Homo sapiens: one gene and its partners. The protein of the gene in region 1 interacts with the protein of each later gene in a pairwise test. Each region holds a gene or a part of one and is shown on either strand. Other genes may lie near its edges.

The links.
Region 2: the proteins of UPK1B (region 1) and MS4A4A interact in binary tests that used the Homo sapiens proteins (3 or more experiments, as listed by UniProt).
Region 3: the proteins of UPK1B (region 1) and SLC35H1 interact in binary tests that used the Homo sapiens proteins (3 or more experiments, as listed by UniProt).

What each region holds. Positions count from the first base shown.
Region 1 is NC_000003.12:119,168,990-119,176,599, reverse strand, and holds the start of UPK1B (uroplakin-1b), read right to left. Parts: upstream 3,003-7,610; 5' UTR 2,962-3,002; intron 1-2,961. UniProt on the Homo sapiens protein: Component of the asymmetric unit membrane (AUM); a highly specialized biomembrane elaborated by terminally differentiated urothelial cells.
Region 2 is NC_000011.10:60,275,860-60,283,685, forward strand, and holds the start of MS4A4A (membrane-spanning 4-domains subfamily A member 4A), read left to right. Parts: upstream 1-4,806; 5' UTR 4,807-4,816; coding exon 4,817-4,857; intron 4,858-6,734; exon of another isoform or gene 6,735-6,880; intron 6,881-7,826.
Region 3 is NC_000020.11:46,347,406-46,354,425, reverse strand, and holds part of SLC35H1 (solute carrier family 35 member C2), read left to right. Parts: intron 1-2,199; coding exon 2,200-2,375; intron 2,376-3,535; coding exon 3,536-3,665; intron 3,666-3,901; coding exon 3,902-4,032; 3' UTR 4,033-7,020.

The DNA.
Region 1 (7,610 bases):
CCCTGTGCACCCCGCCCTGTGGGAAAACTGCCCTGTGGCCTGGTATGATGATGATTTACTCAAATTGCTCAATACCCTGGGAGTTCCTTTGCTTTAAAGAGTGCAGATTTTTTTAAAGCTAGAATTATATTTCTTGTTTTTTCTTTATTGTGCTTTCACTCAGTTTGTTTTCCTATAAAAATTAATCATACCCGTAGTGTTGATGTTTCCAGACACATTGAAAGGTCTAAAAACAATTGCTCACTAAACAAACCAATTTGCAAAGCAGAAGAAAAAGAAGTGAGACTCGCCCAGTAAGCATGAGATCATTTTTTCAAGTTCATTACCTCTTTTCCTCACCCAAGTTTGTTGTACCAGAGAACACACAAACCACACCTCAAACTTTAGTTCATGCTAGAGAAATTTGAATTAACAAAGGAGAAAAAAAGAAAAGGAAAAATAGGAGAGGAAGAAACAAAGAAACACAATATGCGATTGCCTTAGCCCTCACCCTGAAACTCAGCACAAGAACAGACACTTCCTTGGCTCAGAGTAAAGATGGGTGTGGAGATTGTAGGTCACAACAATTGCTGGTCTGCTTCAACTTAAGGTAGGATAAGTCCCTGGAAATAACAAAAAGAGGAGGTTTCTCCCAGGGCTGTCACCCATGGCTCACAGTGCCCATAAGTTTTTCTTGCTTTAAAGCTCTAAACCTGTGTTGACTAATACAGTAGTTAGTAGTTGCATGCAGTTATTTAAAGTCAAAAGAATTCAATTAAATAAAAGTAAAAATCAGTTCCTCAGTTGCTCCAACCACATCTCAAGCACTCCCTAGATACATGTGGTTAGTGTCTATTATCTAGAACATTTCCCTCATCACAGAAAGTTTTACTGGACAGCACTGCTCTTGATTCCTGGTGCTCCCAGTATGATGGGAGTCATCCACCCATTGGAAATCAGGGACTAGCTGTAAGCAATGGCTCAGGAGCACTCAGTTGCACGAGGGCCTCAGGTGTGGGCATTGCCAGAGAGATGCCCAGCTCCAGGGCAGGAGTACTATGGAGAGTCCTTGGGGCGGGGGGGAGGGGGTGGGCAGGCGGGTAGGGCGGTGTGTGATGATGGTGCCCCCTCACCAATGTGGTCTCTGTCCCAGTTGGTGAATGGTGGCCCATCAAGTTTGTGGGCAGCCTGCATGGCTATCAGGCACAAATTCCAGAGCATATTTAAAGGCTGGCTGGTGTTTACTCTGGTTAAGATTGTAAGCAGGAGAAGTCAAAAAGAAGTTCTGAGTTTTGGCCGGGTGCGGTGGCTCAAGCCTGTAATCTCAGCACTTTGGGAGGCTGAGGTGGATGGATCACGAGGTCAGGAGATTGAGACCATCTTGGCTAACACGGTGAAACCCCGTCTCTACTAAAAATACAAAAAATTGGCCGGGCGTGGTGGCAGACACCTGTAGTCCCAGCTACTCGGGAGGCTGAGGCAGGAGAATGGCATCTACCCGGGAGGCAGAGCTTGCAGTGAGCAGAGATCACGCCACTGCACTCCAGCCTGGGCCTCAGAGTGACTCCGTCTCAAAAAAAAAAAAAAAAAAAAAAAAAAAAAAAAAAAGAAAATAAAAGAAAAAAAAAGTTCTGAGTTTCTTTTTTTTCCCCTTGATTAAATGATGTCTAAGGTCCCCTTTGGATGTAAAAGTCTATGATTCTTCCCAGCAGTTAAAAAAAAAAAAAATAGGTGAGTTGATTTTAAAGACTATTTTATAGCAGAAAGCAAAACAATCTGTTGGAGCAGAAAGCAAAGTAAGAAATTTTTCTCCTCACTGAGAAGGTTAATAAAAAGAAAATCCACTTCTTCATAGGGTCTGAAAACTATGTAACCTAAATTTTGTTTATACTCAAAGTATGTATATCTATAAAACCTAATGAGTTCTTTCCTGTTGTGCTTAGCAACTCAGGCAAGAAATGTTCAAGAAACGTTGTCTTTCATTAAAAGAAGACATTCAAGTTAACAAAACTTCTTTAAAAATTTATTTTTATTTTTTTTAGAGACAGGATCTCACTATGTTGCCCAGCCTGGACTAGAACTCCTGATCACGTGGCCTCAGCTTCCCGAATAGCTGGAACTGCAGGCATGTGCCACTGTGACTGGCTACGAATTCTTAAATGGCTTAAAAATCTTTAAAACTAGTTAGAAGTGGAGTTTTAGGTTTATAAACAAATGCAAACATAAAATAATACTAGCATTATTTGAAACTTAAATTTGTATTTTGTGTGAAAATGTGATCAGAATGAAAAATATCTTTATGTCCTGCAGATCATGGTGGAGCAAAGAATTGGTAAGGAGTAAAAACAAATTATGTAAAAATAACATTGCGTAGATAAAGCTACTTTGTTGACTTACTTCAACTGACACATTTATTAAGCAGAAGTGTTTGCAGAGAATAACTGGGAGTAAATTGCTTCACACATTTCATTACAGGTTGGCAGGACCAAATGATTTCTGACAAGAAGACCAAGAAACTTTCTCTCTGCTAGCCTGAACAGATTATTAAGAAATAACACGAGCTATTTCGTTAAACTTTCTATTGCTTTTCTGACTCCACAAGGAAATTGGGGGTCTACAAAGGTGACTGTCTATGTGCGATTTAATCAGGAGATATAGGGTTTCTCGGGGTGCTTGGATTTTCTTGTTCTTTCTGTGGGGATATCTGAGGTTGAAAGCAGGATGGCTGCGTAATATCTCCAGAAGTTTAATGAGAACAAGACTTATATCAAGGGTATTAAGAAAGCAATTCCAACGGTTCAAAGTAAAAGAGAACAGGACAGTCACAATACCCTAAATTACAAAGAAAAAAATGACAGACTTTATGAATCAAGAATCTAACTTCTTCCCCTTTCCCTCCCAGTCTGCTAGCTTCCCTCCCAGGAGAGCAACCCAGCCCTTGAGCCCGGGAGATTCCCTGCAGAGGGAAAGCGGTCTACTCACAGCGCCTCCTCTTTCTGCGCACACGGTAGGGCCCGCTCCGCAGTCTGCACCCGACCCAGGTGCTTTTCTACCCTCCTGCAATTCTTTGAACCTCCAGGACCAGGGAAGGGTAGTCTGTGATTGGCAGGAGGCACCTCACATGGGCTGAGCTTTCCGCTGCCTGCCCTGCCTCGCTGAGGCGGGGGAGTAACCGGAGGCTGTCAGTTGATTTCTGCTGCTTTGGAATGTGTGACTCTGACAGATGGAAGCACCTTGACAGCCACACTCATCGCTTTCCTGGATCCCTCCTAGGTTTGGGCTTTACTGGAATACAAACTCAGGGATTTTATTTTGATTTGATTTGATTTGATTTGTGTAATTTGATCCTTACTCCTGCTTTTGTGTGTTGAAGGCTTGTTAGTCCTGACCGCTCACAGCGATGCTGATATGTGCTTACCTGTGTAGGGCCATGTCCAGTTTTAGTTTCTATAATTTGCATATGCCAAATTCAGAGAGACAGTAATTGCCCAAGTAATGCTCATACTGTAGGTGGCCCAAAGACTGATAAGGAGCAAGAGATGTGGAAAGAAACAGATTGGGAAAAATTCACGGAGAGAGAGGGCTCAAGTGATTATCTGATGTCCAATTCTTCCCTCCCCTCTTCTTCCCTCCCTTTCTCTTCTCTTCCCTTCCCTTCTTTTTTCCTTCTTCCCTGACTTCTGGAGCCATCATGTGTTATACATGGCACCCAGAACATTATTTTAATGGCTGCATAACCTATCATGGTATACATGCGCCATCGCTTGTTTAACCTGAGTTAGGAATCGGTAACTGCAGTAATGTTAGAATTTACTGAGTGCTTTTACCAATAGACTTGGGAGTTCCTCAAAGGTCAGCATCATCTCTGTTGCAGGTTAGGTTGTTCAGGAGCAGACTTTGAGACAAAATTTAGTGTGCAATATATTTATTAGACAGTGCCCTGAGATTAACACCCATGGCAGGGAGAGGGGAGAAACAGGACTGGGCAGAGGAAGAAGTTGAGCTGCAATATAGATGGGACAGTCTTAAGCAGCCCTCCTCAGGAAACTCTGGAGGAAGATGGCCTGTCAGAGTAGCTCTGACACTGGGCTCCTCTATGATCTGCCCTTCAATGTGGATTACCCTGGGAAGGCAGCTTTCTGTAGCTGAGGCAAGTCCTGAAAGGGGCTGATAACTGGAGGCTGGAGGTTGCAAGTACTCCCAGCAGCAGGGCAACCTCCCACTTCAAGGGGGACTGCATGGAGCACCTCTGTGTCCATCACAAGGCCTTATTCCTCTGCAGCTCTTCAGGGCCTTGTTAGATAAATTATCATATTTCACACAATAGAATTCTGTGCAATGGTTAAAAATGACACCACAGATAAACATTTAATGGTATGGAAATAAGTTCAGTCATTTATTTGACAAATATTTATTGAAAACTTAGGATGTGCCAGGCACTCTTCTAGAGGCTGAAAATGAAAAAGCGGTTTACAAAATAGTTTGTGTAATCTGACACATTTTAATTTTTAAGAAAGTTTACCTATGACTTAAAAAGTTAGAAATAGTATACAGCAAACATTAACCAGAATATATCTGAATGGTAAAATATGGGTGACTTTTACAGTCTTCTATTTTTGCAGTTCATATGTTTACAAAGGATCTATATTATAATTATAAGAACGTACAAGTTATTAAAAACATGTGCTGTCCTGGAAATATTTGTGATAAAGTAGCAAGGAAGCAAACAAGGACATGTGAATTTTCATTCATGTCTTAGGCATTTTATGTTCCATTACCATGATTATATGGGGAGAAAACAAAAAGATTTGAAAATCTTCAAAATAGATAATGTGAACACAAACCCAATAACAAGAGACAAGAGACTAGCTAGGAAAAGGAAGATTAGTTTTCAGATAATAACTGCAACTGAATAGTTGAGGAACGTCAAGTCGTTAATGTATGACAGGCTTATTTTTTTCCAGTTAATTTATTTCTAACTCTCTTCTGCTAATCTTCCTTTCTCTCTGGCTAGGTGGCTCCCTTACCCACATCTTAACCTGATTCCAAGCTCATCAGTGAATTCTCATTACTAATATCTCACTTCTGTTAGAAACACTTAGATATTTTCTTCCTATCACCACAATTCAAACTACAGACTCCAGTAGTTTTGGGGAGAAGTTGAGGTCTTTAATAACCCCCCAACTCCCTGTGTATGTTCATTTGAGAGGGAAATGATGTCGTCCTGTGTGAGTGGCCAGAGAGAGGCTCTATCCCTTTCTGTTGGCCATCCCCACTGTCTAGTTCACCACCACCAGCAGCAGTGTAGACAAGGGCAGTGCACAGGGCTGGCCGAGGAGAGCCCTACTGAACCCCACGAGTTCCTAAGCCTCAGAGGGTGCTCTGCCTCATTCATTGGTTTGCAGTCAGTCTTTGTCCTTCAATCTCACCTACCCTCCAGGACCCCAGTTCTCAGGTGGCTGGGTTCTACCTTCTGCACATCTCAGGAACCTAGAACTAAAGGTGGCATGCTTGTCCCCTTCTCTGTCGGGCCATACCACTGCACCATCACCCTCCAAAGCTTTTCCTTCTCTGTGGTAGTTCCAAGGCAAGTTAGCAGGCCTGGTGACTCATGTGATATTTAACTGGGCTAGAAGAATTGGTCCTACATACACACTCAAACTTTTCAGTCCTCATGAGGTTTTCCTCTGTCATCTTCGGGGCAAGGAACCACTGGAATGTTTGTCTTCTCTGCATTCCCTAACAGATCCCTCACTTCAAATTGACTTTCCTATGGCGAGGTAGGGAGTTATAGTGCAAACTGGGTGAGAAAGAGGCTGCCTCCCTACTGGAAGTTCGGAAAGTGGGTTATTTAATGCCTTTTGCTTTCTCTAGTTACCAATTTCAGCAAAAACACTTCTCAAAACATGATGTTGTCTACAATATTTTTAATATATAGTAAAAGTCCCAGGTACTGCCAAATTTACTCTTCACAATATCCCTTTTTTTTATTATTATACTTTAAGTTTTAGGGTGCATGTGTACAACATGCAGGTTTGTTACATATGTATACATGTGCCATGTTGGTGTACTGCACCCATTAACTCGTCATTTAGCATTAGGTATATCTTCTAATGCTATCCCTCCCCCGTCCCCCCACCCCACAACAGTCCCTGGTGTGTGATGTTCCCCTTCCTGTGTCCATGAGTTCTCATTGTTCAATTCCCATCTATGAGTGAGAACATGCAGTGTTTGGTTTTTTGTCCTTGAGATAGTTTGCTGAGAATGATGGTTTCCAGCTTCATCCATTTCCCTGCAAAGGATATGAACTCATCATTTTTTCTGGCTGCATAGTATTCCACGGTGTATATGTGCCACATTTTCTTAATCCAGTCTATCGTTGGACATTTAGGTTGGTTCCAAGTCTTTATTATTGTGAATAGTGCCGCAATAAACATACGTGTGCATGTGTCTTTATAGCAGCATGATTTATAATCCTTTGGGTATATACCCAGTAATGGGATGGCTGGGTCAAATGGTATTTCTAGTTGTAGATCCCTGAGGAATCGCCACACTGACTTCCACAATGGTTGAACTAGTTTACAGTCCCACCAACAGTGTAAAAGTGTTCTTATTTCTCCACATCCTCTCCAGCACCTGTTGTTTCCTGACTTTTTAATGATTGCCATTCTAACTGGTGTGAGATGGTATCTCCTTGTGGTTTTGATTTGCATTTCTCTGATGGCCAGTGATGATGAGCATTTTTTCATGTGTTTTTTGGCTGCATAAATGTCTTCTTTTGGGAAGTGTCTGTTCATATCCTTCACCCACTTTTTGATGGGGTTGTTTGTTTTTTCCTTGTAAATTTGTTTGAGTTCATTGTAGATTCTGGATATTAGCCCTTTGTCAGATGAGTAGGTTGCAAAAATTGTCTCCCATTCTGTAGGTTGCCTGTTCACTCTGATGGTGGTTTCTTTTGCTGTGCAGAAGCTCTTGAATTTAATTAGATCCCATTTGTCAATTTTGGCTTTTGTTGCCATTGCTTTTGGTGTTTTAGACATGAAGTCCTTGCCCATGCCTATGTCCTGAATGGTATTGCCTAGGTTTTCTTCTAGGGTTTTTATGGTTTTAGGTCTAACATTTATGTCTTTAATCCATCTTGAATTAATTTTTCTGTAAGGTGTAAGGAAGGGATCCAGTTTCAGCTTTCTACATATGGCTAGCCAGTTTTCCCAGCACCGTTTATTAAATAGGGAATCCTTTCCCCATTGCTTGTTTTTCTCAGGTTTGTCAAAGATCAGATAGTTGTAGATATGCGGCGTTATTTCTGAGGGCTCTGTTCTGTTCCATTGATCTATATCTCTGTTTTGGTACCAGTACCATGCTGTTTTGGTTACTGTAGCCTTGTAGTATAGTTTGAAGTCAGATAGCGTGATGCCTCCAGCTTTGTCCTTTTGGCTTAGGATTGACTTGGCAATGCGGGCTCTTTTTTGGTTCCATATGAACTTTAAAGTAGTTTTTTCCAATTCTGTGAAGAAAGTCATTGGTAGCTTGATGGGGATGGCATTGAATCTATAAATTACCTTGGGCAGTATGGCCATTTTCATGATATTGATTCTTCCTACCCATGATCATGGAATGTTCTTCCAGTT
Region 2 (7,826 bases), on another chromosome or scaffold:
GGTTGCAGAGCAGTAAATTGGTCAGAGCTAAGAGATCTTGTAATGATAAAGAAGAGAAGAATGTGATTTGTATACACTACTTTGGTGTCAGCATAGACGAGTTGGGCTATTGTCATTAAACAGACCCTGTCCTTAGGGGACACTGGCATTTATTTTGCATATTAATATACATAGGCACCAGTATCTGAGGTTAAGTGTTAAGAATTTTAAGAGTGTTTTCTTAAGAATAATACCTTTCTTTGCTACATATGTACTATTTGAAGAACCATTTCTTAAGCACAAAGGAAACCCATATGGGAAAAAAAAACATTTTGTGCTTTTAATTTAGAATTATATAGGCACTGGAAAAATATTTTTATTAAAAGGATACAAAATAATATTTTTTCTAGATTCAAAATGAGGAATTACAGTGCTTAGATCTATCACCTCAACTTTACATGACTCCTACTTCCTAATATATTTGTTTTCACATTTTCCCTCTGTTCTAATCTTTTATTCCAGATATCTCTAAGGCTTTTACCAATCTCTTTAGCTGAGATTGTAATATAATTTTCTCTGATACTGTATCTCAGTTCACTGCTGACTGATGTGCCACCTACATCCATTCTCTGCATTGTTTCTATTTTACCCACCCAATAGCATTCAACAGAAATGTTCCTACCTGGTGTCAGACATTGAGAAATGTTGAAATCAAAAAGATAAATAAGATACATTATCTGTCCTCAGAGATACAATGAACTGGTAAGAAAAACACTTATAAAAATATAATTTTCAAATAATGGCTAATCTTGGTGGATTAAACACATCTATTTCCTCATGAAACCCAACTAAATGACTATAAAGGGTCTGGGAGAAAGTCATAAATCCAAAAATTCAAAAATAATATGAGAGAAATTGGATCATTTTTTTAAATGTTAGAAACCAGCTAGACAAGCAATAAATGACTTAGCAGCCTCCGGAAAGTGAAAACCTGACTGACGGAATTGGAAGCTTAGAAAAAATTTGATTCTCTTTGTAGAACCCCAGTAAGTCTCAAGAATTATAAGTGCTTTCAGTTGAATATGTCTGGGGACACAGCTAATTGTCTGAGAAGGTAGTTGTATTAGTATGTTCTCACATTGCTAAAAAAGACATAACCAAGACTGGGTAATTTACAAAGAAAAAGAGGTTTAATGGACTCACAGTTCCACATGGTTGGGGAGGCCTCAGAATCATGGTGGAAGGCAAAATGCACATCTTACATGGCGGCAGACAAGAGAGATTGAGAGCCAAGCAAAAGGGAAAACCACTTATAAAATCATCAGATCTGGTGAGACTTATTCATTACCACGAGAAAAGTATGGGGGAACACGCCCCCATGATTCAATTATCTCCCAGTGGTTCCCTCCCACAACATGTGGGAATGATGGTAGCTACAATTCAAGATGAAATTTGGTGGGGACACTGCCAAACCATATCAATAGTGAATACTTAAGTAAGTGAATTCCCTGAGAATAGTGAATTAAGATCCCTGAAGGCCTAGAGTATAACCAGTCCTAACTGGAATAGGAGAATATAAGGCGCCAGGAAGGGAGAGTGTATACAGAAAAATACTAATGAAACAGATCAATTACCTGTGGGTCTATAGACACTGAGATTTACATTTATGGTGGAGTATTTAAAACAACTTATTTTCAGGTATGTAGAAAACAGCATATGAAACATGAGGCAGTTACTAACTTCAGAGAGAAAAATGGTCAAAAGGAAGCGTAATCATAACACTCATAATGAATTAGCCATTAATGATTTAAATACTATAAATTGAGTTAACTAAAAAATCGTGATAAAACTATATGGGAGAATGAGGGAAAAGGAAGTGTTATGGTGGGAAGGTGTGTCCAGGGTAAAAATGAAGGATATAGGGGTTAGTCTATTGTCTTCAGTAGTAGGAGGTTAGTGCATAATATATAAAACCAAAAATTAGAACAGTATTTAAAATCATTCACTTAGAAATATGGAGTCAACACAAAAAGAAACAATTAAAATTTAAATACTTGCTTCTGGAGAAAGAAAATTGATTGGGAACTGGGGAAGGGGGCACTAATGATTTCTTTCAGGCTAAATCCAGTGAACATTTTACTGTTGTTAGCTTGTCTCTCTGAAGTATTTAATAATAATTGAATGATTTCTTCCTACTGAAATATTTCTGTGCTCAAAAAATGATAAGTAATTTATTTATATTACCTAATATAACCCTTTCAACAACGCTATGACATATTACTATCTATATTTTACAGATGAGTAAACTGAGGTGCAGAAAGCCTAAGCAACTTGCTCCAGCTCACATAGGGCATAGGATTCAAAATCCAGCTCAAGGCCGGGTGCAGTGGCTCACGCCTGTAATCCCAGCACTTTGGGAGGCTGAGGAGGGTATATTACTTGAGATCTGGAGTTCGAGAACAGCCTGGCCAAAATGGTGAAACCCAGTCTCTGTTAATATATAATATAACATATTATATAGAGATACATTCTATTATATATATAATATATTCTATTATAATATAATATATATTCTATTATATAATATATATTATATATTATATCTATTATATATAATATATCTGTATATGATATATAATTATATATAATATATAGATATTCTATTATATATAATAGGATATATATTCTATATATATAGAATATATATATTTCTCTGTCAAATTTCATGTTATTGTTCTCTTGAAATTGTTATCTGCTAATAATAACCTGATACTGTCTCATTTCATACCATATGGAGTGGGAGGAGAGACTGATGCCTGTCCTTAGTCCAGAATTTCAACCTCTCTTAGGAAGTCATGAAACTCTGTACCCTTGTCTTCTGCAATGCCACATTTTCCGAGTTTGCCTGCTATCTTCCTTACCCTCTTTTTCATAATCCTCTGGGAAATCTTATTTCTGATTATACTGTCTCTATCCTCTAGAAAAAGGGTTTGACGTTTTCTGCCTCCACCCACAAGCCTGGGTGACCTCATCCCTCTGGGCGAAGAGCTGTTGGGTTTACCTCTATAGCCATGTTCTCATTCCCTAGCTCCTGCCAGTTATCCACTTCTTGTCAACTTTATTTGAAGGTCCCTACACAACTCTGATCAAATACGTTCAAAATTTTACTATTTGTTCCTGCAGTTCTGTCCTGGTCCATGTCTATTGCCTTACTGAATGGCTCTATCACTCATTCAGTTTCCTAACCCAGAATCTGAGTGTCATCCTTTCCTGTTTTTTCTCCTGATTTACACATCCATTATACCAACAAGTACTGTCATTTCTTGTTCCTAAGCATCTTTCAAATCCATTCATTCTCTCCAACTTCACTAGCATCACAGGTAGTTCAGTAACCATCATCCCTTCCCTAGAGAACTGCCTCTACCTTGAGCCTAATTCTCTGATTTTATTATTATTTATTCCTGTTGTCTGAAACCAGGACAATATTTCTGAAATATAATCTATTTTAATTTTGAGAATCGTAATTTCAGATTATAGACCACATAGTTTTTGGAATTAAGTAAAACTGGATTTCAATCTCATCTATACCAGCTATACGAATATCTCTGAGTTTCAGTTTCTTCTTCTGAAAAATAGAAATAATAATATTACCTTCCTTCATTCCCTTTCCATTTGTGTGTCTTTTGCTCATTCATCAGGTCTCCAATTAGATGTCCCCTTATCTAGGAAGTCTCCTCTGCCTACCCAATGTTGGGTTCATTGATCCTCCTATGAGCTCTCTTAGGATATCCTACTTTACCTTGCAGATCACTGATTACAATGGGTTGTAATGATGTATTTACTCATCTGTATTGCCACTTTACCTTGCAGATAACTGATAGTAATGGATTGTAGTGATTTATTTACTGGTCTGTTTTTCCAAGTAGTCTATAAACTCTTTGAGTGAAAATTATTTTTTACCATTTTTTCAGAAGCACACGGCACACTGCTTGGCTTATAGTAGTTTTTCTAAAGAAAATGCTGAATGAATGAAAACTGCACACCACTTTGCTTTCCTCCTCCATGTAAAGTAGGCATTATTTTATTTTACAAATGAATCTTAGGTTCAGGAGATTAACAGGGCCATGCAAGAAATGTTTGCCATTGGTTTGATCTTAGTCAAAGACCAGCTCGTTCTATGATACCAGCTGCTTCCTTCACTTAGAAAGGTGTTGTTTTATTGCCATACAACCAACTTGTTGCCATTTTATGGCCACTCCTGATGAATCTCTAAAGGTGGAATTTCATGTAAATAAAACATTTAAGTTGTGTATATTAAGGTTGGTGCAAAAGTTAATTGTGATTTTGGCCATAAAATAATGGCAAAAACTGCAATTACTTTTGCACCAACCTAATAAAATAGTAATAGTAGTGCTCCAGGAAGACAAGAGTACTGTGGAAATGTGTGACCCTGTGAAAGGGGGTATTTACAAAATACCATTTACTTGTTTATATAACGACTTTTGAAGAGAGTCTGGCATACAGTAAATCCTCTACCACTGATATCCACAGTAATTAGCAGTATTATTTTCATAGGAAAGACTGTATCAGGCAGCCCCTGCTTTTTCAGCAAATTTCAAAATAGACATCCACACCCATATTGGGAACACAAAATCAGTTAATGCTTCCGATATAAAAGAGGAACTAGCTGTGCGTCTCAGAAATTCTCAGCACAGCCTTTAAGGTTCCAAACATCTGCTAGAAGAGGAATGCAGATTTAAACTGAGTGAGGTGTGGAGTGGGGGAAGTTGATTGGGTCTAGACCAAAGAACTTTGAGGAACTTGCCCAGAGCCCTGCATGCATCAGACCTACAGCAGACATTGCAGGCCTGAAGAAAGGTAGGTCCAGGGACTTGCCTTCCTAGGCTTTCGGGCTGATGGCTTGTTTCACTTCCTGGGTTAAGAATTTCTGGGAGGGGAATGAGAAGAATAATGAGGCCACTTCCCATGACCCAAGCTGGTATTCAGGGTTGGGGTGGGTTGAGTGCACCTTTAAATGTGCATTCGGTGGGGGGATGAGGAACAGTTTTTGCTACAGTCGATAGGAGTTAGAAAAGCCTCCTAAAGGCTGACATTGGAGGCTGGATAAGGTTGTTTAGTTACTTTTGTCCCCTGAGTCTTCAGGATATCAAAACACTGAAAGCAACATTTTAAACCTTTGACTAGTTACCTCATCTACTGTTAATGCCCTTCTTCTGTGGTCTTTATTCTCTGTGTCTGACTGGTTATTTTTATAACTCAGGATTTAAGAACAGATGTATCACATGCAGAATTTGGTGTACATGGAGTAGGGCACAGGCAGGGTCCCCAGCCTTGTACATTTAGATGGGCTGTGGCCTGACCTAGTTCTCCAGTGGTCTTTGGCACTATTCATGGGGCACCCAGGCAGTAAACTGAGGCTGCTCATGATAAAATCTGCTAATGAAAAACACCTTGTAGACTTTTAGCATTCTTAGGATAAGAAAGAAGCTTGTAAGTGGTCGTGGCCATTGTAATCTTTCCCCAGATGAAGTAAAAGAAGCCAATAAAAGGGAAATAATGTACCCAGAATCACACAAGTTAACAAAAGGGCTGGGAGAAAAACAAAAACAAAAACAAAAACAGAATTCTTGGTTCCTAGCCCGGGCCTTTCCCCCTTTTCCCTTCCCATGCCACCACTTCTGCATCCCCATCATCCTTCTAAAACCATCCAGATTCAGGCCTCATTTTGGGTTTCTAGTCTATTTGACAACTTTGCCAAGAAAAACGGATGGCTGTTTGTACCACTCTCCTCATGCTCTCTCCTTGCAATTGTGACCCATGAGGAGGATGGTGACATAAAAATGAGGAAATAAGAGACTGGTGGTGCTGCTGATCCACAAGGTGACTGGGGCCAATAGAAGAGGGAAGGGTGGTCTGGGTTTCCCCACCTCTTTATCAGGGGTGTGGGGGAAAGACATTGTATTTCTTAAGAGCCTGATGCATATAGGTGATGTGGCAAAACCAAGGTTTAAATTCTTCTCCAACCTGGAAGAAATGTCCCTCATATGCATCCAATATTCTCAGCAGTTAAAAAAAAAATTGAATATAGAGAAGTCAAGCCCTGGATGGTAAACACGTTTTTGTTCTTGGGGACTTCATGTGCCGTAGATAATTAACACAAGGATTTCTGTGGTGGAAAAAGAGGAGGCAGTTATATGAATTTATGGCCAGAGTTTCTTAGAATGACAAAGCACCAGCCTTGAATGACCAGAACCTGACCTATGTTACCAAAGAATTATGGGAAAGCATAGGAGTCAGTTACAAGCTTTATTTTGATATAATTGCTCTGCCCTCGAGGAAGCTTACAGTCTTACCAGAGAGGCACTAAACACAGAGAGAGAACCACCAGTGCGTTTGATAAGACAGACCCAACATGTCCTAAATTCTCAGTCTGAAGGTGTGCCTGAGAGATTGAGGCAGAGGTTCTTTTACATTAAAGAAGAATAAAGTACACATTTAGATGGACTAAGAAGAATCATCTTTAGTCACTTTCCAAATAACTTTGACTTTTGCAATGTAGAAGGAACATAACACATTTCTTAAACCCTTATTTACCGTCATAGGCTGACTAATCCACATGTGGGCAATGGTGGGGAAGTGGGGGAATAGTGTCTGAGAGAAGATAGAGACTATAAAATGCTGTTCATGTGTGAGAAGATTAGATGATGTGGTGGGTTTGTTTTTGTTCTTACAAGGTGGTCACAAGAGGGGTGGAACATTCCTGCAAATGGTTTCAATATATGCAGATGTCTCAATATAGGAATGAAATTACGTCTTTGGAACAACTTAAATAAGTCAAATATACTTGGAGCTTTAAAAATTAAAAGGAGAGAGATTCGAGGTAAGACTACAATAGATTTGTGCTGAAGTAGCCGAGCTTTTGTTATCAACATTAAAAATTTTAACTTTATGCTAAGGGTGGTGAAATATAAAAGAAGGCTTTTAAAGGGGATGGTGACTCAATTGTTTTTGTATTTGATCATTCTGGCTACAACATCAGTGGTGGATTGAATATCCAAAGCCACAAATGGACACAGGGAACATTCAGAGGCTATAATGAATACTTCTGATAAAAATAGAATAATGGCTTGCCTTGAGAAGATGGGAGAAATACACAGAGTTGAAAAATGGTTGTGTAGGATTAGAATGAGATTGATTGAGCATAGAGGGTAGGCAATGGAAGGAACCAATGACAAACTATCAGATATTTTTGAGACAGGGTCTCACTGTGTTGCCCAGGCTGGAGTACCCTGATGCCATTGTGGCTTACTGCAGCCTGGGCCTCAGCCTCCTGAGTAGCTGGGATTACAGGCGCCCACCACCACACCCAGCTAATTTTTGCATTTTGTGTAGAGATGGGGTTTCACCATGTTCCCCAGTCTGATCTCAAACTCCTGGGCTCCAGCGGTCCTCCCACCTTGGCCTCCTATACTGCTGGGATTACAGGATTGAGTCAAAATGCCCAGCTTTAAACTTCCAGATTTTTAACATGGATAGTGTAGTTAATTGCTGGACCTTCCACCAAGAAAGGACACTTGTAATTTCATAGCCCTCTTAGGGTTCCTGTTCCCTTTAGCTCTTGCCACTCTTGATTAGCAACTACTTACAGGGCTCTGAAATAATCTCCACATAGGAAGATTTGCGCCACCTTACTTTTTTGAAAGGGAAATTTTGAGGAAGACTGGATGTCTTCTATTTAGGTCTTCTAAGGTTTGAAATAAAAATAACCTCTTCTCCCTTCTGGGACAAGTAGGTAAATTGTCAATTTATGGGCTTTATTAGAATGA
Region 3 (7,020 bases), on another chromosome or scaffold:
AATGGGGAATCAGGGATTGTTCCAAGATGCTGGAGTAATCAGGCAAGTCAGAAAGGCTTCCCAGGCCGTGGTTTGGAGGGTGAGTGGGATTTTGGCAGGCTGCAGGGAGCAAGGCATCTCGGAAGTAGGAATAGGAGGTTCAGCCATGTCCAGGAATATAACCTGGGGATGTGTGTTCAAGGAGTGTGGGCCACGCAGGATCAGCAGAGGGTGGGCTTCCAGAGCTGGGGGCTGAAGACCAGGAGCCAGCACACAGGAGCCTGGGGACATGGTCAGTTGTTCCTCCACTGTCGTCCTCCAGGGATGAGGAGAGCCCTGGAGAACTGTGTAGGCTGGGAGGTGTGACGCCACCTTCCTTTCTTTGATGTTTTGGGATTAGCCTTTGTCCCCTTTCTGTTTATCCTTCCTCCCAGAGTCCCGTCTGTAATGCCCTCAGGGTCATTACAGAAAATTCTGTCCCACATCCATTTAAGTTTCAAGCAGTGAAGCGTCTTGAACCTCCCCAAGAAAATTATTCTGAAGCCCCGTTGTCCAGGAAACTTCTGTTCAGGGCCTCGTTTTTTTTCCTTCTTTAAAATCTCTCCCCACTCCTTCATTATGCCCCCTTGTACCAAACGCCACACTCTCCCTCCCCTCCCGTGTGTTTACACCATGCCCCATCTCTGCAAAACCTCATCTGAAAGCCCCTGGTAGTCGTCACTTGGCAAAGCTGCATGGATTTAGCTCCTTTAATCTTTTCTGGTAAATTAATCCCCCAAGCGCCTTCATTACTTATGCTGCTCTTCCCCGAATTCCCTTCAATTTGCCGACGCCTTTGCAGTTCTGCTGAGCCCAGCACCAAACAAGATGTCCTACACTGTGAGGCTGTTTTGCCTGGGGGGACTGTCACTCGGCATTTCTTTGGTGCTTCCCTCCAAAAATCTCAAAATACTCGTCCAGCTTCCAGCTACCACAGTTGTCTCTTGTGCCCAGTTCTGGGCCCCCCTTCACCCTGTGCTAATACACCACGAGGACTTTCGTGTGGGAGGGACGCCGGGAGTCATTCTTCCAGATGGACAGTGTTGGAGGGACCATGACTCCTCCGAAAGTCTAAGCTGAATTTGGGGTAGGGGGTGTGCATGCCTGTGTTTCTGGAGCAAGGGGCCATGTGTTTGCATTTTCTTTTTGGGAAATGTTCATCAAGTGATACCACGGGTTGGAGAAATACCAGTCTGGTCCCAGGCCTCTCATTTTATCAGTAAGGAAACTGAGGTCCAGAAAGGGGACACATCTCAGCCCAAGTCCCACAGCTCTGTACTAGCAAGACCTAGATTAAAATGAACGTTTGTAGGGATAGAATTTTGTCCCTGTTTGTAGGTGAACTGGCTGAAATGTAGACCAAGGAGTTCCCTGAGTGGGCTGGGGCACTGTTGGTCCTTCGTCACTTGGTAGCCGCCCTACCTTCTTTAGCCCAGTAGTTACCACAGCTCCAAAGACCCCATGAAGTCAGCAGCCATGAGCCCCTCCCCACAGACCAGTAAGGGAATACTGTCCAAAGGTGCAGGGCACTTCCATCCGTCTTTCCATGCAGGGCCACCCCCCTCTACTTCACCCCAGAGGCTCAGACGAGCCCTCCCCATCATTCCGCTAGGATCCCCATCATCCCACTAGGATCTCCATCATCCCGCTAGGATCTCCTTCATCCCACTGGGATCTCCTTCATCCCGCTAGGATCCCATCATCATCCCACTAGGATCCCCATCATTCCACTAGGATCCCATCGTCATCCCGCTAGGATCCCATCGTCATCCCGCTAGGATCCCATCGTCATCCCGCTAGGATCCCATCATCATCCCGCTAGGATCCCATCATCCCGCTAGGATCCCCATCATCCCGCTAGGATCCCATCATCCTGCTAGGATCCCCATCATCCCGCTAGGGTCCCATCATCCCGCTAGGATCCGCATCATCCTGCTAGGATCTGGCTTGTATTGCCCCCAGGCGCTCTGGCAGCCATCACTGCTTCCCTGGTTTCCCCAGGTCTCAGGCCATCTGTGTGGGATCACTTTATACCTTCCATGCTTTTTCTCTGGGCTGCAGACAGTTAGCAGGTCTCAGTAAGAACTCACTACTACAGTGGAAGATCTTGTGTGGTTGGCATTGGGCTGGCCAAGGCAGCCCAGGACCCGGCCTCCCACTCTCTCTCCCTGTTGCTTTCAGGTCTCCATTTGTCCACATCTGAGAAAATCTTCCGTTTCCAGGACACAGGGCTGCTCCTGCGGGTACTTGGGAGCCTCTTCCTTGGCGGGATTCTCGCCTTTGGTTTGGGCTTCTCTGAGTTCCTCCTGGTCTCCAGAACCTCCAGCCTCACTCTCTCCATTGCCGGCATTTTTAAGGTACAGACTCGGGCGTGATGCCAGTCCTGTCTTAGAGAGGGAGCCCCCAGGGGTTTCTCACCAGCAGCTTCAGTCCCAGCTCCTGCACCCCAGGGCCCTGCAGAGAAGAGAAGGAAGTGCCCCATTAGGTGCCAGGCACTTTGCTGAGTGCTGTGCTGGCCCCTCCTTCTGCCTTGACCACAGCCCTGTGAGAGGGTATGATCACTCCCATCCCACAGACAGGGACACAGATGGAGAGCCGCCCCTCCCCAAGGGCACAGCAGGGGCCTCAAAGCCAGCTCTGACTCTGCTAGGCCTGGAATGCATTCACATTTTACCTTGACTGCCAACTCTGGCACTGGGCAGTGGCCTGGAGCCACAGGTTGAACAGCCCCTATCCAGACTCATCAGGAAAGAGTTCCGTGATTGACTGGCGGTGTCCTCCAAGGCCATGGCCAGGGCTAGTGAGACCCTGAGAAAGCACCCCTGTGGCCAGCCTTGCTGTACCTCTGCCTCGCAGGCCTGTCCTTCCCTCTCATACCTCTTCTCACTTCTCCTTCTCCCTCCCACACATTTCAACAGTCCTCCCTGTTCAGGGGCAGGGAGGGACTTTTCTCTTTGGCCAGGCACACACCAGTGTTGAAGCAGTGTTGCCTAAACCCAGAAATGCAGGCCTGTCCAAGGGTCTTCTGGTGGCCAGCCGCATGCTGAGGCATGGCTGTGGTTCTTGGATGAACGGCCTTGCCAGTCCTGTTTGGAGTCTCTGTTTATAGAGAGCCCCGGGACCAGTTGTGTCTTCAGTCCGGGGTAACACAGCATTCTCACACATAGGCTCAGGGCTCTCTTCTGTGGCTGCCTTCTGGGGCAGCCGTCCTTTATCCTTGTGGATAAGGCGCGATCTGGACACCCTGGTCCCCAGCCTGGGATCTGGTTTGCCTCTTTTATTCCTGACAGAATTCCATGACAAGCACCTCCTTTGTTGCATCTCACAAAAGGAGGCTGGCGGGACAGCGCCGCAAGCCGGCCGGGTCCCCTGACCTCTCTGCCTGCCTGGGCCCAGGATTTCAGTAAGATCTTGATCTGCCCACCTGAGTGTACCTAGTGCCCCCACCTTCCACCCTCCTGGTCAAGCAGCCAAATCTGCCTGTTGATCATGCTCCCTCCTGCTTCTCTGCCCCCAGGAAGTCTGCACTTTGCTGTTGGCAGCTCATCTGCTGGGCGATCAGATCAGCCTCCTGAACTGGCTGGGCTTCGCCCTCTGCCTCTCGGGAATATCCCTCCACGTTGCCCTCAAAGCCCTGCATTCCAGAGGTAACCCAGAGTCCCTTCCAGAAGCCTCTGTTTTCTGTTCTTCTCCCTGTGACTCTTAGTGATTCTGATGCAGGAAGTGTGCCCGGTGGCTCTGCTGCCGTCACTCCTCTAGGAAGATGTGGGGGTCATCTCCAGAGTGGGTGGGTGGGGCCTGGGTGACTCAGCACACATGCAAATCAGAGCAAACCAAGAAAACCACGACTGGGCCTGTAACTGTGGTCTCTCTCTATCCCAAGGTGATGGTGGCCCCAAGGCCTTGAAGGGGCTGGGCTCCAGCCCCGACCTGGAGCTGCTGCTCCGGAGCAGCCAGCGGGAGGAAGGTGACAATGAGGAGGAGGAGTACTTTGTGGCCCAGGGGCAGCAGTGACCAGCCAGGGCAAATGGCTTAGAAGCAGGCCACTCCCCAGCCTGCTGCCAGCACTCACTGTGCTCAAGCCGCCAGGGCTCATCATGGTAGCTGGGAGCTGTGGACGGGAGTCACCAGGTGGTGGGGCCAAGCCAGGGACTCATGACTTTTGCCCCTCCCTTCAGAGCCTGGTCACACAAGGGGCGAGCACCAGGCCAGCCTGGGACTGGCCAGAGCTGGGCCCAAGCTGCGCTGGAATCGCAGCAGGAGAGGGGAGTGGGCTGGTTCTTCCCACCACTTCCCAGGCTCTGACAGCCGAGACTCATTTCCAAGGCACAGCAGCTTTCTAAAGGGACTGAGTTTGGACTGGGTTTTGGACCTCCAGGGGCTGGAGCTTCATCACCTGGGCAGTGTCTTTTCTCAGAGAGCAGGTTTCTTTATAGTTTGGAAATAAATGGTTCACGGTCCACTGGCCGCCTTGTGTTGCTGGAGACGTGGGGGCAGGGAGGGGACAGTGTGGGCCTGGCCTCTCCTTTCCTTTCCCTGCCTGGAGCCTTCTTCAAATGTCTGGTCTTAAGCCAGGCCTCCTTCATTTTCTCGCTCCTGTTAGAACACCAGTCCCCTCCCCAGTGGGGCCCCACTGCACCTGCTGGCAGGAAATAAATGAATGTTTACTGAGTACTGCATTCTGGAGACCTTACATGTTTTCACAGCCTAGTTTGAATACTGGCTTTGTCACTAGCTGTGTGACCCTAAGCAAATGACCTAACCTGTCTGTGCCGTAGTTTTTTAATCTGTGAAATGGGGATAATGTCTATCTCAGAGTCCTTTTGAAGATTGAGTCATTATTAGTAACAGATTAAATGTTATATAAGCATTTCTTTTAATCCTTTTAACAACTAAGAGACTAAAGCCTGGAAAAGATAAAGAGCTGCTTAAGTGGCCGGGCTGAGGTTCACATCCAAGTCTGTGTACGTCTGTGTGTGCACGTGCTGCACGTGACATCCACACAGCCTCCTGGAACTTCATGGGCCCCTGGGGCTTGGGCTTTCCACTCCTCCTTGGCCAAGTCCCACGTCTTCTCTAGACTGCAGGCCTCTCTCAAATGAGGAAGGGAGGGGGCAAGACCCCAGCTCTGATGTGCTGTGGACTGAGTCTACTCCTGTAAACTGGTTCCCGGGCCATGGGAGACCCCCCCGGCCCTTGGGGACAAAGCTTTCCAGGCGAAGTGCTCCTAGGCACTCACAGCAGGTGGCGCCATTGCACCACACTGGCTCCCAGAGCCCAGCTGCCCTGCCACGGCTATCCAGACACCGGCAGAAAAGGGGTGCTTGGAAGAGGACAGTGGGTATCCATGGGTGGGGACAAGGATAGGGCTTGTTCTAAAATTGTTTCCATCAGGTTGGAGTCACTAAAGCTCGTTCGGTTAAGCCCAGGAGAACTTTAATACTTTAAAAATGGGTCTGCAAACTTCCTGTAAAGGGCCAGATAGTAAATATTTGGGGTTTGGGGACCATATGGCGTCTGTTGCAGCTACTCTGCCATCGTAGCACAAAAGCAGCCATAGATGACACAGACCCAGGGTGTGGCTGTCCCAGTGAAACCCCATTTACAAAAGTAGGATCCAGCTTGCTGGCTGAAGTTTACCAGCAGGAGAACCCTCAAGAATTCTCGAGTCCAACTTCCACTTCTGCAGCAGGAGACTGAAGCCAGGAGGGGGCGGTGACTAGCCCGAGGCCCTCAGAGCCTCCGTGCTCAGGAGTCAGACCGAGATCTGCCTCTAATTCAGATTCCCAGCACAGACTCAGCAGGCGGAGGTGGAGCACCAAGGGCGCTTGGAAGCGGCCTCTTATCTGGCTCCTGCACCTCTGCCCCCCTTGGATTCCGCAAGCTCAGAGGCCAAGATTAAAGGAGGCTCGTGCTCCAGCTGGATGATGTGGGAAGAGCCAGCCAAGGAGGGGGGCCAGGGCCTCCTCCGTCTTAGAGGCTGCTTGGGATGCAGGCTGCTTGGGCGGCAGGGGGAGTCTGCCAGAGCCCCGCTGGCTCAGGTGGATGAGAGCTTCCTGTCTGCTCCCCCACTGCCCGCCTCCCAGCACAGGGAGCAAGCGTTGCTGTCTGGTGCAGTAATTACAAGGTGCAGAGCGGGGGCCCTTACCTCGCACATGTTGGGTTCAATGACAGCCCTTCATTTAGCAGCAATTACCAGCTGAACCTAAAGGAGGGCTCCCTCTCCTCCCCCACCCAGCCCACCCAATCGCCTGGCCTCCCAGGCCAGACAGCGTCCACCTCGGCATTGAGCCCTAGAACCACCCATGCTGTCTGCAGCCATTGCATCTCAGGGCTGCAGCATCACCATGGCAACGCGGTGCTTGCACAGGTTGAGGGGAAGCTGAGGATGTGACTTGTCTCTCCAAGGCTGTGGTGTCTGTCCCCACACAGCCCCAGCTCCGAGGCTTCTGCAGAAGGGGCGGAGAGAGGACTGACCTGCAGGTTCGAGTTTCAAGTGCTTACCTGCCCACCACCTCTCCCAGGGGCCCACAGTGGAAGGAAGGTTAATGGCTCCAATATGTGAGGACGTCCACAGTTGGTGTTGTGGTGGCGGTGAGAATGGGCTGCAGTTTGCCTGTGGGAGGGACCTGAGCCATCAGGCAGGGCCCGGCATACCTTCATCTTCACTCCGGTACCCTTTTCTGCCTTGAGGGCTCAAGGGATTGTCTCCATCTGTTTCTGCTTTATCCTGCTGTGAAAAACCTGAAAATCCCAGTGGCTTGAGAGTAGTTACATGGCACCAAGAGAATTCTCCTCATGGTACTTGCTGCAGCTTCCTGCATCACACACTAGTGATGGACTGAGGGTGGGGACTCCCAGGCCATCCATTTAGGTCGACAGCATTCAGTGAGTACTGGCTACATGGCAGACACTGCCGGACTTGGGGACAGAGACATTCATTTTTGGAGTCAGCCTTCCTCCCAGCCCAGGAAAGTGATGAGGCAGTGGGCTGGGGAATGG